3 separate regions of the Homo sapiens genome follow, and regions 2 and 3 are each linked to region 1. The links come from fine-mapping of genetic effects on gene expression. A gene starts in region 1. Each other region holds a variant in brackets. All regions are shown on one strand. Distances are between the middles of the regions. Region 1 holds the start of IGSF11 (immunoglobulin superfamily member 11). Region 2 overlaps B4GALT4 (beta-1,4-galactosyltransferase 4). Region 3 overlaps B4GALT4-AS1 (B4GALT4 antisense RNA 1).

What was found. PIP is the estimated chance that this variant, and not a neighbour inherited with it, causes the effect. A credible set is the group of variants that fine-mapping cannot tell apart.
Region 2: its variant is the best candidate, but not a certain one, in a credible set for the expression of IGSF11 in lung (GTEx, PIP 0.56).
Region 3: its variant is the best candidate, but not a certain one, in a credible set for the expression of IGSF11 in whole blood (TOPMed, PIP 0.65).

The regions. Positions count from the first base shown.
Region 1 is chr3:119,032,734-119,036,973 of GRCh38, reverse strand. IGSF11 (immunoglobulin superfamily member 11) reads left to right here and starts at 2,128. Exons shown (of 7, transcript NM_001015887.3): 1 at 2,128-2,443. The coding sequence starts at 2,392. RefSeq lists a silencer at 1,848-2,207.
Region 2 is chr3:119,232,704-119,236,943 of GRCh38, reverse strand. It overlaps B4GALT4 (beta-1,4-galactosyltransferase 4), which reads left to right. Exons shown (of 8, transcript NM_003778.4): 2 at 1-91. B4GALT4-AS1 (B4GALT4 antisense RNA 1) reads right to left here. Exons shown (of 4, transcript NR_046574.1): 3 at 1,804-1,912. Among named protein-coding and RNA genes, the nearest start is that of B4GALT4, 6.1 kb to the left of the region's middle. The variant G/A (reference allele first, on the strand shown) is at 2,080.
Region 3 is chr3:119,245,292-119,249,531 of GRCh38, reverse strand. All of the region lies in intron 3 of B4GALT4-AS1 (B4GALT4 antisense RNA 1), which reads right to left. Among named protein-coding and RNA genes, the nearest start is that of B4GALT4, 6.5 kb to the right of the region's middle. The variant G/A (reference allele first, on the strand shown) is at 2,456.

The DNA of each region.
Region 1 (4,240 bases):
TCTGCCCTCATGCTTCTCAGCAGCTGGATTGCCTCCTGAAATCTGATCATCCTCACTCTCCCTTCAGAAGCCACACTTTTTTTTTTCTATTGAAAGGGCTCCTTTACTGAACTGTGAGCATTGTCCTCTTAATGACTCAGTAGCTCTTGCCTGGCAAGGCAGAAGTATCCTTAGGTGACAAAGAGGCAGAACTCTATCTGCTTATTTATGATAGCACAGATATAGCCCATATGCAATTGGAACTTATTTGGGGTCAGGGGTCATTTTTTTTTTTTTGGTTTAACCTTAAACCTGGTGCCTTACAAAGTGTAGGTACTTGGTAAATAGTTGTTAAATTGATGCGATAAATATATCAGATAACTTGCTTTATCAGAGCTTTAAGCTCAGATTATTAGGTTATTTAAAGGATATTTATTTAAAGGATAAATATTCTGCCTCTATATTTATATCTGGGATTATGGTGACATGAAGAGTTGCTCTCAGTAGCTCCTATCACTTGACCGCTTCCTTGTTTTTCTTCTTATATTGCTTACTCTTATACCCTGCTTAGGACTGGATTAGACTGCAGGAATATGTACAAGAGAGGGTGAGGGATTGAATTGGATGGAAAAAAGAAACTCTAGTCCTTACCCTGGAGTTTAAAAGAATGAGAATGAGCCTCGTGATATCATAGTTGGAAATTTAAATTTGTTATTAATATGAAAAACTCTACTGTCATATCATTTATTTCTTGCCATTAGAGATCTGGTAGGGAATTCTAGCAAGTTGGAAGTAGTGAGCAAAGTTGAGGCATCTCTACTTCATAATCAAAATTTATCCTTTCAGGATATTCTTGTTAAAAGTTATTAACATTTCTTAACATGTTTCATTTTTTTAACCTTAAAAATATAATATCCACATTTTCAAAAAGAAGTACATCCATAACTCCACCATCTTGATATTTTAATTTTACATATATCTTCCAATCCTTGTCCAAATGTATGTTTAAAAAATATTTTACATATTTTTCTTCTGTGCATATTATTTTTGTTTCTGAGTTTCCCTGGGAGGATTGTATTTGCCAGATGAGGGCTCAATTTCTGAATGGCTCCGAGAACCCTAATTTATGCTGCTGTAGAAACTGACCAAAATGGGTTGGCATCCCCTGGGCAGGTATGTCCTCAAATTTAGAAGGCTCAGTTTGGAGGCTGAAGCAGGAAGTGACTATGAGCTGTACAATAAAGAGCAGAGCCCAGTATAAGAGAATAAAGATAGGTTTTACAAGAAAAGATGTAGGTAGATATTTAAGTAAAACAATTTCAGATGCTAGGAAAGTCTTTCTCCCCACCCAACCCAAACAAACAAGAAGCAAAAACAAAAAACCCAACTAAACAACGATTACAATAAATGTACATACCCCACTAGTTAACATGTATACTTAAGGTCAGTTTAAGAAAGCACTAACGTTTAAGCTGGAAAACTTAAAATATTAGAAGTTGACATAAGGTTTACAAAAGGGGCAAGAGAAGATGGCAGTCTCTCTGATAGGAATGGGGAGTTAGGGGCATGGTCCAGCCTCTATCCACTTTTCAAGGAAGAAAGGTGAAAAGGCATCCAGGAAACAGCGCAAAACCAAAACACTGTAAAATTAGGAATTCCTAATTCTGCCAGAGTCAGGTTCTTTCAGATTATTTAGGTTTTATAAGAGAGGACTGAAAGTGAAAAAGCCAAATATAAATTATCCGAAAACTGCAACAGGAAAGACTCTTGCAGGCTCAGAGGAAGGCTGTGGAAAAGTCATTGCTAGAGCTCTCCAGGATGCATCAGGCCGACACCACCTGTTTGCGGAGGGGTTTAGACCAAGGGAGGGGCCCTAACTCCGGCGAGGAGGGCGCCCACCCCTCGGTTCCCGGAGCTGGTGGAGGCGTGCGGGGGAGCGGGCGGCGCGGTGCACAGGTGGCGGGGGCCGCGCCAGCTGCGCGCCGCGCTCTGCTCCGCGGGTGGGCCGCCAGGCGTCGCGCTGGAGCCGCGGTTGCCCTGGAGACCAAGCGGGGCGAGTGGGCGGCGCGGCGAGGAGCCGAGCTGCGGCTGGAGTAGCGGGGCGTGAGTTGGGGGGAGTGGCTCCCCGGACTGCGCGAGGGGTCGGCTAGTCCTGGGGCAGGGCTGGGTGGCACGGCTGGCGAGCCCGGAACGCCTCTGGTCACAGCTCAGCGTCCGCGGAGCCGGGCGGCGCTGCAGCTGCACTTGGCTCGTCTGTGGGTCTGACAGTCCCAGCTCTGCGCGGGGAACAGCGGCCCGGCGCTGGGTGTGGGAGGACCAGGCTGCCCCAAGAGCGCGGAGACTCACGCCCGCTCCTCTCCTGTTGCGACCGGGAGCCGGGTAGGAGGCAGGCGCGCTCCCTGCGGCCCCGGGATGACTTCTCAGCGTTCCCCTCTGGCGCCTTTGCTGCTCCTCTCTCTGCACGGTGAGTAGCTCCAGCCCTTTCTTCCCGGTGGGGCCAGGCCGGGTCGGCGGGCCCGGGGCGAAGCTGTTTGGGGACGGCAAAGAGCCTCCTTGCTTTGCCGAGGGTCGGGAGTCCAACTTTCTCAGGGGCGGCGTTCGTTGCTGCGGCCGAGGCTCGCGCGCACCTGCAGCGGCTGCTTCTGCCGCCCGCGCAGCCCAGGTGTTCCTTGTCAGAGAGGTAACTAAACTCGTCCGGCTACCTCCGGTCCCAGGCCGGGCCCTGACTCTCACCTCGCTGCGCTCTGCGGAATGCAGGATCCTTTTTAGATAACGAACTCCCTTACTCACTGGTCCAGTTAGAAACTGTATTTAGAACCAGTTGTCTTTACTAGGCGGCCCTAGGAAAACTAGAAGTGCTTTTAAAATCATTTGGAAAACTTTATAGCTTTAACGTAACCTTTTAGAAGCCTATACACGTTTTGGCCGAAAATGATCTTTATTTTAAAACTAATTGTATACTGTGCTATACTACAATCGAAAACAAGAATTTATTTACACTCTAGCTTCATCTCCAAAGGACTTAAGTTGGCTCTCAACAATACATAGAATATAACAATATTAGAACAAAATAAATAAATGTCTTTAAATTTCTTGTTAACGGTTTTTAAAACATCTGTTTATAAATTTAGCTTTTAATCTCTGCTTAATCTTTCTTACATTTTCGGTGAATAGCCATCATATTAATTTAGATCCTGATTTTCATCCTATGCAGTGCTGTTTGTTTTTGTGTGTGCATTCTCCTGTGGAATCCAGTTTTCTGTCCCATTTATTGCTGAGATTTACTGAGATTTTTTTTCTGAAGGATGTTATTTAAAAAGCGGGTTCAGTGATTTTGGAACTTTGTGGTTAACCCTGTTTTTTTTCTGGAGACACCAGCATGTTTCCAGTCATTTCATGGCCTTATTCGAACTGATTTTGAAGTAACCTAATACTAGCCAACTTAACTTGTGCAGATTCATTGAATAGGGGAGAAGAGAATACGAAAACTTTTTGTATGTCTTCTCCGTAGAAACTAATGAAGCTGTTATCATCAAAATTAACTTTTCTAGAGTTCAGTAGGTATATTTTTAGTGATGATGTGCACACAATAACATCAATATGTCCATGTTATGAACTTGTGCTTCCAAGTATCTTGTACTGTTACTAGTTTGAGATGGCCAGTTTTTCTCTCTGTCCTACTACTTTTAAGTGTGAAATAAGAGAGTAAATCGGCTTTTTATGCAATCCTTGGACACAGCTCTAAATATTACCAATATTACAAGAACAGCTCAAATTTTTGGTAGAACATTCTATTATTAAAGTTGTATATTATAATAAATGCTCCTCTTTTTGTAAATAGCATTTGTGTATAGTTTGTTTTTGAATTATTAGGCAGTACTTTAAAAGAGTTGATACAATTCGCAGACTCAGCCTTGCAAGGTCATCTGATTTGTTCTTTTTTCTTCAGCAAAACTATTCCCAAGCCATAGAAAAATGTTTTTAAAGACTTCCAAGGACTTCTCAGTTTTGGCAATAACCTGTTATGTAGAGGCATTTTCCACTTTCAAAAACAGTGTTCATTGTTCAACAGATATTTACAGAGCCATCACTCTGTGCTTTTGAGTATCTGGTGGGGAAAGGTGGTGGTGGAATACAAAGACGCGTGTGAGTGTCTGCAGCCCGTAAGGAGTTTGCATTTTTAAAACAGGCTGTAAGCATGCACAAATAATTTATGGTACAGGGAATGTATGATGAGTTCTATTTGTTAATGTAAGTATCA
Region 2 (4,240 bases), 200 kb before region 1:
ACACTTCCTCCCCAAGCCAAGGAGAAGTATCACTTTTAGAGGCAGAGGAGCGGAAGGCAGTGGGTGTGACCAAAAGTGCCATTTGTTAAAGGTGAGGACCCTACCCTTAGAAAAGTGTTGATATTAGTGAACTGAAGGGAGCTAGTATCGGGGTGAGCCTTTTTAATTTTTAAAATCCTTCTCAGGTGGAATTTTGTACTCATATTATTAATCTTTATTTCCCACCTTCTTTTTTAATGTTTCATTCCTTTTAGCAGTAGCCTGGAATTATGATGTGTCCTTGTGTATTTCAACTAGTATATCCTAGTCCGTCATTTGTTACTAAATTGAGTACCTGCTATGTGTCAGGTTGGTTTGAGGCACTAGGAATACAAAAACAATGATTCTCCTTGAGAATTAAGTTAATTTACTATCATTTGTTGACTCAGGTTATACCTAGTCTCTGACTCTTTATTTTTAGTTTTAGTTAATTTTAGACTTACAGAAAAGTTGTAAAAATGATACACAGTTCACCTAGCTTCCCCTAATATTAACCCCTTACATAACCATACTACATTGATCAATACTATTAACTAAACTACAAACTTTATTGAAAATTCATCAATTTTCCTACTAATGTCTGTTTTTTTTTTCTGTTCCCATTGTATTTTATCAAGGATCCTGCATTTTATTTAGTTTTTCTTTCTCCTTAGTCTCCTCCAATCTGAAATAGTTCCTCAGTTTTTCCTCGTCTTTCATGATTTTGATTCTTCGAAGAGTACCAGTTAGGTATATCGTGGAATGAACTTGTGGTGAGCGATTGGATTTCTCCACTACAAAGTTACTGTCTTTCCCTTTGTAGTTAAGAATTATCTTGGGGAAGATACTTTGAGACTATACTGTTTATCCTCAAATTTTTGCCTGTTAGTTTAGCATCCACTGGTGAACCTTGTCTGCAACAGTTATTAAGTGGTGTTTGCTGAGAGTGATTTTTTTTCCATCGCTCACTTTCTTACTAGTTGGAATTTAAGAAAAGAGCCGCCCCTTCTCTTCTATTCATTTATTTGTTTGATCATTTTTATCAGTGTAGACTAGTGGATAGTCACTTTATCCTATGGGTTAAAATACAGTGCCATCATTTTTTTTTTAAATTACTCAAATGCTTCTAGGTTGGGCTGTTAGGAGCTTAATCTCTGGGTTTAAATGACTTGTACATGTAAATGGCTGTCATCATTTTTATCCCATTCCTACCCTGCCCAGGGAACCACTGTCCCTTTAGGATCTGGCCAGTGATCATTTAGAAGTCTCCTAAAGGAGTTGTAATTGGGATAATGAATACCAAGGCCTAAGGAAAGTGGGGCAATGTGTGTGTAAAAGGTAAACTCCTAGGAACTCTGCAGGAGTAAAAAGAGTAGCAAAATAATCAGTCTTTCTTCTGGTGTTGCCCCAGGGAGCCCCAAGGCATCAGGATCATGTGCCTGGGACAACATCAAGCCCACTCACATGCCCTGTGTCTGCAAAATTACCTGATAGGTTCAGAGATGTTGGAATGCTGATTTTGGTGCTCATAGCTGCCGAATGAACACACCCTTTCTCCTTGGTGCAAATGCTTAGTAAATATTTTTAGAGTGATACATGGTGTCCTCCCCACCCACTTTAGTGGAGTAAAAATGTGTGTGGTTAGAGATTCTCCAAGAATGATACTTAGCACTTATGTTTCCTTTCCTTTTGTTATAGCTTATCTTCCTTGCCAGATTTTAAAAACTATTATGGAAAATCTCAAGCATTCACAAAAGTAGAGAGAAAGAAAGGACTCTCAGGTACCTATCACTTATATTCAAGACTTCTCAGTATTTTATCCGTCTTGTTTCATCTGTTCTCCCACTTTGGGATGTTGTTCTCATATTTGACAGGAAATTGCAGACATTGAGATCTAGAAAAAGATAGAAATAAACCCTGAGTACAAAGACTAGGCTTTAATTCTCTTTATATGGTTTTCCCTTTGCTTGAAAATAGCAGGTAGTCAGAAAAAGACTGGTTGAATTGAGTGGAGGAAAACCAAATATGAAAACATGACCATTTTTAACTAACTACGGGGCA[G/A]ACTTCTAGAAAGGAAAAGAGTGGTAAATCTTGCCCTAAATAACTTCTTTCATGTTGCCTGAATTTGTTCTCAATACTGATGATGTAGTCCCTTGGCACTTCAAGACAGCCTTGACTGAAAAAGAAAATAACTCTGAGACTCCTGTGAGAATTAAGGGTCTCTCAATTACTTAAATGTTAGTGTAAATAAATCCAATATGATGGCACTTTCCCAAACACCAACCAGGAGTCACTTGCCCTAAAAATAACTTTCTTTAAAAAGTCATTATGTTTTTCTAATTATAAAAATATTACATACTCATTAAAAGAAAAAATGGAAATTACAGAGTTAGAAAGTAAAAATCATCTCATTAATCCCAGAGATAACATTATCTTGGGCAATATTCTGATAACATTTGAACATGAATCACATTGGTAATTAGAGCCAATAAATACATGTGTTCCTGGCCAGGCATGGTGGCTCACGCCTGTAATCCCAGCACTTTGGGAGGCTGAGGTGGGCAGATCATTTGAGGTCAGGAGTTTGAGACCAGCCTGGCCAACATGGTGAAACTCTGTCTCTACTAAAAATAAAGAAAAATTAGCTGGGTATGGTGGGGCATGCCTGTAATCCCAGCTACTTGGGAGGCTGAGGCAGGAGAATCGCTTGAACCTGGGAGGCGGAGGTTGCAGTGAGCTGAGATCACACCACTGCACTCCGGCCAGGCCGACAGAGGGAGACTCCGTCTCAAAAAAGAAAAAAAAAAAACTTGTGTCCTGGAAATGTACCAGATATAACAGTGTACTTGGGTGCATCATCTCATTAAATTCCTAGAGCAACTTTGTGAGATAAATATTTTTCATCATTTTATAGCTGGGACACAACGGTGAGAGGGGTTGCCTCCAGTCACTTGGCTGGTCTTTCTTGAAACATAGATGGACAGACAGATGACAGACCCTTCACACTTCAGATGTTTACTCACAGGAGCCAAGGAAACCTTACTTCTGAACTTCCTTATGCTGGCTCTCTGTACAGTTTTTGGGAGAGCACTTAGACTTAGAAAGATAGGTAAGAATTATTTTTAACTGGGTCAGATGTCTCAGAAGCAGGATTAGTAATGAAGGCCTAATACTTAAGTAATTATTAATAATGGCTCCTTGCTTTTAGAATAAATGTCTTACCTTTGAACAGAGTCTGTAAGCTGCAGTTGAGCAATATTAGTTTATGAATATTTGCAGCTATTCTTGGATAGGTTTTTTTGTTTTTGTTTTTTTAAATTACAGTCATCCCTCAGTATATGGAAGGAATTGGCTCCAGGACCCCTGCATCTACCCAAATCCATGCATGCTCAAGTCCTTTTGTCAGCCCTGAGGAACCCACATATTGGAAAAGTTGGCCCTCTGTATACACAGGTTTTGCATACCGGGAATATTGTATTTTTGGTCTGCATTTGGTTGAAAACAATCTGAGTATAAGTGGAGCCGTGCAGTTCAAACCCATGTTGTTCAAGGTTCAGCTGTATTTTTTAGGACAGTTTTAGATTCTTAACCAAACTGAGCAGAAGATACAGAGATTTCCCATGTACCCCGTGCCTTGGGTAGGTTTTTAAATCTCTTCCCACTCTGTAGAATGAGGGAGGTGGATGTGTGGTCTTTAAGATCTTTTCTGATTTCAACACTGCAGTAATTTTATGGTCATAACCTCCTTCCACTTGGCGATTCTCTCTTCCAGGGGACTCTCCCTCTAAAAATAGCTCTTAGAAAAGCCATGTTCCCAGGGCTGGGTGCGGTGGCTCACACCTGTAATCCTAGCACTTTGGGAGGCCAAGGTGGATGGATCGCTTGAGGCCAGGAGTTCAAGACCAGCCTGGACAACATGGTGAAACCTTGGCTCTACTAAAAATACAAAAATTAACTGGGCGTAGTGGTGCACGCCTGTAATCCCAGCTGCTTGGGAGGCTGAGGCACTAGAATTGCTTGAACCGGGAGGTAGAGGTTGCAGTGAGCTGAGATTGTGCCACGGCACTCTAGCCTGGGCAATAGAGTGAGACCCTGTCTCAAAAAATAAAAATAAAAAATAAATAAAGATAAGCAATGTTCCCAGTCTGAATTTTCTAAGATTAAGATCCTTATTTTAAAAATTGCCAATCCTAGCATTTAAGCCTCCTACAATTAAGTCCAC
Region 3 (4,240 bases), 210 kb before region 1:
ATTCAAGAACAGATTATTTAATTTCCAGGTAGTTGTCTAGTTTTGAGAGTTCCTTTTGGAGTTAATTTCCAGTTTTATTCCATTATGGTCTGTGGAGCTACTTGATATGATTTCAGTTTTCTTAAATTTATTGAGACTTGTTTCATGGCCTATCATATGGACTGTCTTGGAGAATATTCTATGTGCTGATGAGAAGAATGTATTGTATATTCTGGAGTTGTTGGGCAGAATGTTCTGTAAATATCTGTTAAGTTCATTTGTTCTACAGTATAGTTTAAGTACATTGTTTCTTTGTTGAATTTCTGTCTTGATGACCTGGCTAGTGCTGTCAGCGGAGTATTGAAGTCCTCCATTATTATTGTGTTACTGTCTATCCCATTTCTTAGGTCTAGTAGTAATTGTTTTATAAATTTGGGAGCTCCAGTGTCAGGTGCATATATATGTAGAATTGTAATATCTTCCGGTTGGACTAATTGTTTTATTGTTATATAACGTCTTTCTTTGCCTATTTTTACAGCTGTTACTTTAAAATCTGTTTTGTCTGATATAAGAATAGCTACTCCTGCTTGCTTTTGATTTCCATTTGGTGAAATATCTTTTTCTACCCCTTTACCTTAAGTTTATGTGAGTCCCTATGTGTTCAGTGAGTCTCCTGAAAACAGTAGATACTTGGTTGGTGGATTTTTATCCATTTCACCATGCTGTATCTTTTAAGTGGAGCATTTAGGCCATTACATTCAACATTAGTATTGAGATGTGAGGTACTGCTCTATTCATCATTTTAGCTGTTGCCTAAATACTTTTTTTTAATTGTGTTATTGCGTTATAGGCCTTGTGAGATCTATGCTTTAAGGAGGTTCTATATTGGTGTATTTAAACATTGTATTTTAAGATTTAGAACTCCTTTTAGCATTTCTTGTAGTGCTGGTTTGGTAATGGCAAATTCTCTCAGCATTTGTCTGAAAAAACCTTTATCTCTGTTTCATTGATTAAGCTTAGTTTTGTTGGATACAAAATTCTTGGTAGACAATTATTTTCTTTAAGGAGGCTAAAGATAGGACCCCAGTCCTCTCTGGCTTCTAAGGTTTCTTTTGAGAAATATGCTGTTAATCTGATAGGTTTTCCTTTATAGGTTACCTGATGCTTTTGTCTCACAGATTTTTTTTTTTTTTTCTGAGATGATGTTTTACCCTTGTTGCCCAGGCTCAAGTGCAATGGCATGATTTCAGCTCACTGCAACCTCTCCCTCCCAGGTTCAAGCAATTCTCCTGCCTCAGCCTCCCAAGTAGCTGGGATTACAGGCATGTGCCACCATGCCTGGTTAATTTTTGTATTTTTAGTAGAGATGAGGTTTCACCATGTTGGCCAGTCTGGTCTCAAACTTCTGACCTCAGTTGATCCTCCCACCTTGGCCTCCCTAAGTCCTGGGATTACAGATGTGAGCCATCACACCCAGCCAGTCTCACAGCTTTTAAGATTCTTTTCTTTGTCTTGACTTTAGATAACCTGATGACTATGTGCCTTGGTGGTGGTCTATTTGCAATGAATTTCCCAGGAGTTCTTTGAGCTTTTTGTATTTGGATGTCTAGATATCTAGCAAGGCCATTGACGTTTTCCTCAATTATCCCCTCAAATAAGTTTTCCAAACTTTTAGATTTCTCTTCCTCAGGAATGCCAATTATTCTTAACTTCGGCCATTTAATATAATCCCATATTTCTTGCAGGCTTTGTTCATTTTTTAAAATTCTTTTTCTTTCTTTCTTTTTTTTTTTTGTCTGATTGGGTTGATATGAAAGCTTTGTCTTTGAGCTCTAAAGTTCTTTCTTCTACTTGTTCTAGTCTATTGTTGAAACTTTCCCCTGTATTTGGTATTTCTGTAAGTATGTCTTTCATTTCCAGGAGTTGTGATTGCTTTTTCATTATGATATCTATTTCTCTGAAAAATTTTCCATTCATATCCTGTATTGTTTTTTAAATTTCTTTTAAAAAAATGAAAATTTGGTTTTCATCTTTCTCTGGCTTCTCATTGAGTGGCTTAATTATCAACCCTCAGAATTCTTTATCAGCAATTCAGAGATTTTTTGTTTGTTTGTTTGGATCCATTGTTGGGGAGCTACTATATTTTGGGGGTATCATAGAACCCTGTTTTGTCATATTATCAGAATTACTTTTCTGGTTCCTTTTGGTAGACTATTTCTTCAAATTGTTCTTGAATTTATTTTTGATGGGATTGTGCTTTTTTAATTTATTTTTTCCCTCTTAAGGATTAGACCTTAATATTTATTCCAGTCTAATTTGATTCTTGGTGCTTGCAGGGGTGAAGACTCTGTATGAGTTCCTTAGTTATAGAGAGTCTTTGTGTGCTGGCTCTCCTGATGCTGATTGTAGTAGTTATGTACTTGGTATGTGGGCAAGTTCACTGTCTCCTATGAACTTGGAATGGCAGGGATCTCTT[G/A]AAGCTTATCTCATTCTCTTGTGGTCTATATTTATTTGTTTAATTTTTCCCCAGTATTTTATTTACTGAGTTGACGATTCAGGCTTCAGGCCAATAGGGGAGGTATTCTTGGGTAGGTACTAGTTGTAGCTAAAGCAGGTGAATAGATATAATCCCAATGGTGGGCTCAGGCCCCAGCCTTGATGAGGATGGCTGCGGGAGCTCACAATTTGATGTCCTGAGGTTTTATCAGGGTGAGGAGTAGGAGCTACCTCAGCTCCCTTCTCAGGTCATCAAGCTATTCACCTCACAGTCTCATTCCTGTCCCAGTGTTTCAGCTATTCAGATCAGTCAGGACCTCTTTTCATCTACAGGAATGTTGATGTTTCTTGCCTCTTGTGCAGGCTTGAATCTGGGGGGGTGCTTCTCCTGTGGGGCTTGTGCTTACCCTGGATTGTTCCAGCAAGGCTGTCTATAGCTGCCTCTATGCTGCATTCCTGTGGAAGAAGCTTCAGCTGTGTCTGCAGTGTAGTGCCAGGGGGAACAAGGATGCCTTCTCTAGTGCCCTTCATAATCACACAGGCCACCTGCCTGTTGGGGTAGAGGTGCAGACTTTCTCTACTGTACCCAGCACTGCAATTGTGTCTCTGCTGTGAGAAACTTCCCACCAGTAGAAAGATCTGGAACTCACGGCCTGGTGTTTGGATTCTTTTGTCCCATGGGGTGACCCCTTGATGTGGTGCTCTCCCTCTTCCCCTAGGAATGGGGCTTCCTGAGAGCCAGACTGAAGTGATTGTTATTCCTCTTCTGGGTCTAGCCACCCAGCTAGGCTCTGAGCTGGTGCTGGGGAATGTCTGCAAAGAGTCCTGTGATGTGATCTGTCTTCAGGTTTCCCAGCATGGATACCAACACTTGTTCTGATGGAGGTGGCAGGGGAGTGATGTAGTCTGTGAGATTTCTTGGTTGTAGATAGACTCAGTGTGCTGGCTTTCTTGAATGCTGGTTATGCTAGCGGTGAAGTTGTCATGTGGACAGACTCAGGACCTTTAGTTAGCCAGGGTGTTGCAGTGAGTGGTATTAGCTGTTGTTTTCTCCTTCCTGGAAGAAGCGTTATTCTGCCAAGAGTTGCTGTAATGGCCTGAGTTGGCTGGCTTCCAGCCAGGAGGGGACACTTGCAAGAGAGCACCAGCTGTGGTAGTAGCAGTGACATTTGAGCTTGGCCTAAGTTGTCTAGGGGAAGTATTCTGGTTTCCCAGGCAATGGGCAGGGCCATAAGGCTCTCAAGAGTTTATGTCTTTTGTGTTAAGCTACAAGGCAGGTAGATAAATACCATCAGGTCGGGGCAGGGTTGGGCGGGCCTGAGTTCAGATTCTCCCTGGGCAAGGCCTGCCATGGCCTGCTGGGGGATAGGAGGGGTGGATCTCAGGCCAATGGGGTTATGTTCTAGAGGAGAGTATGGCTGCTTCTGCTGTGCAGTAGAGTTTGCAAGGGGAGTGGGGATTAGCTCATAGTGAAAGTCCTCATCCAGCTCCCACAGAGTTGGTGAGGCCAGTCTTGCTCCCATGGTGCCCCACTAACAGCACTGAGTTTAGATCCAGGCAGCTGGTGTGTAGAACTCAGACCTGCCCTGGGCCATGAGCTTCCCTGCTGAGGAAGAAAGCATGGCTTTCAGGTCACACCCCTCCCCATCTGCCTGCAATGCTGGGTGCCCAGCTTCTGCCCTTGTATCTGCATTAGTTTCCATTTGTCCGCCCACCCCTGGATTCTGTTCAAGGGTGCTCATGCCCACTTGAAATTACCACAAAA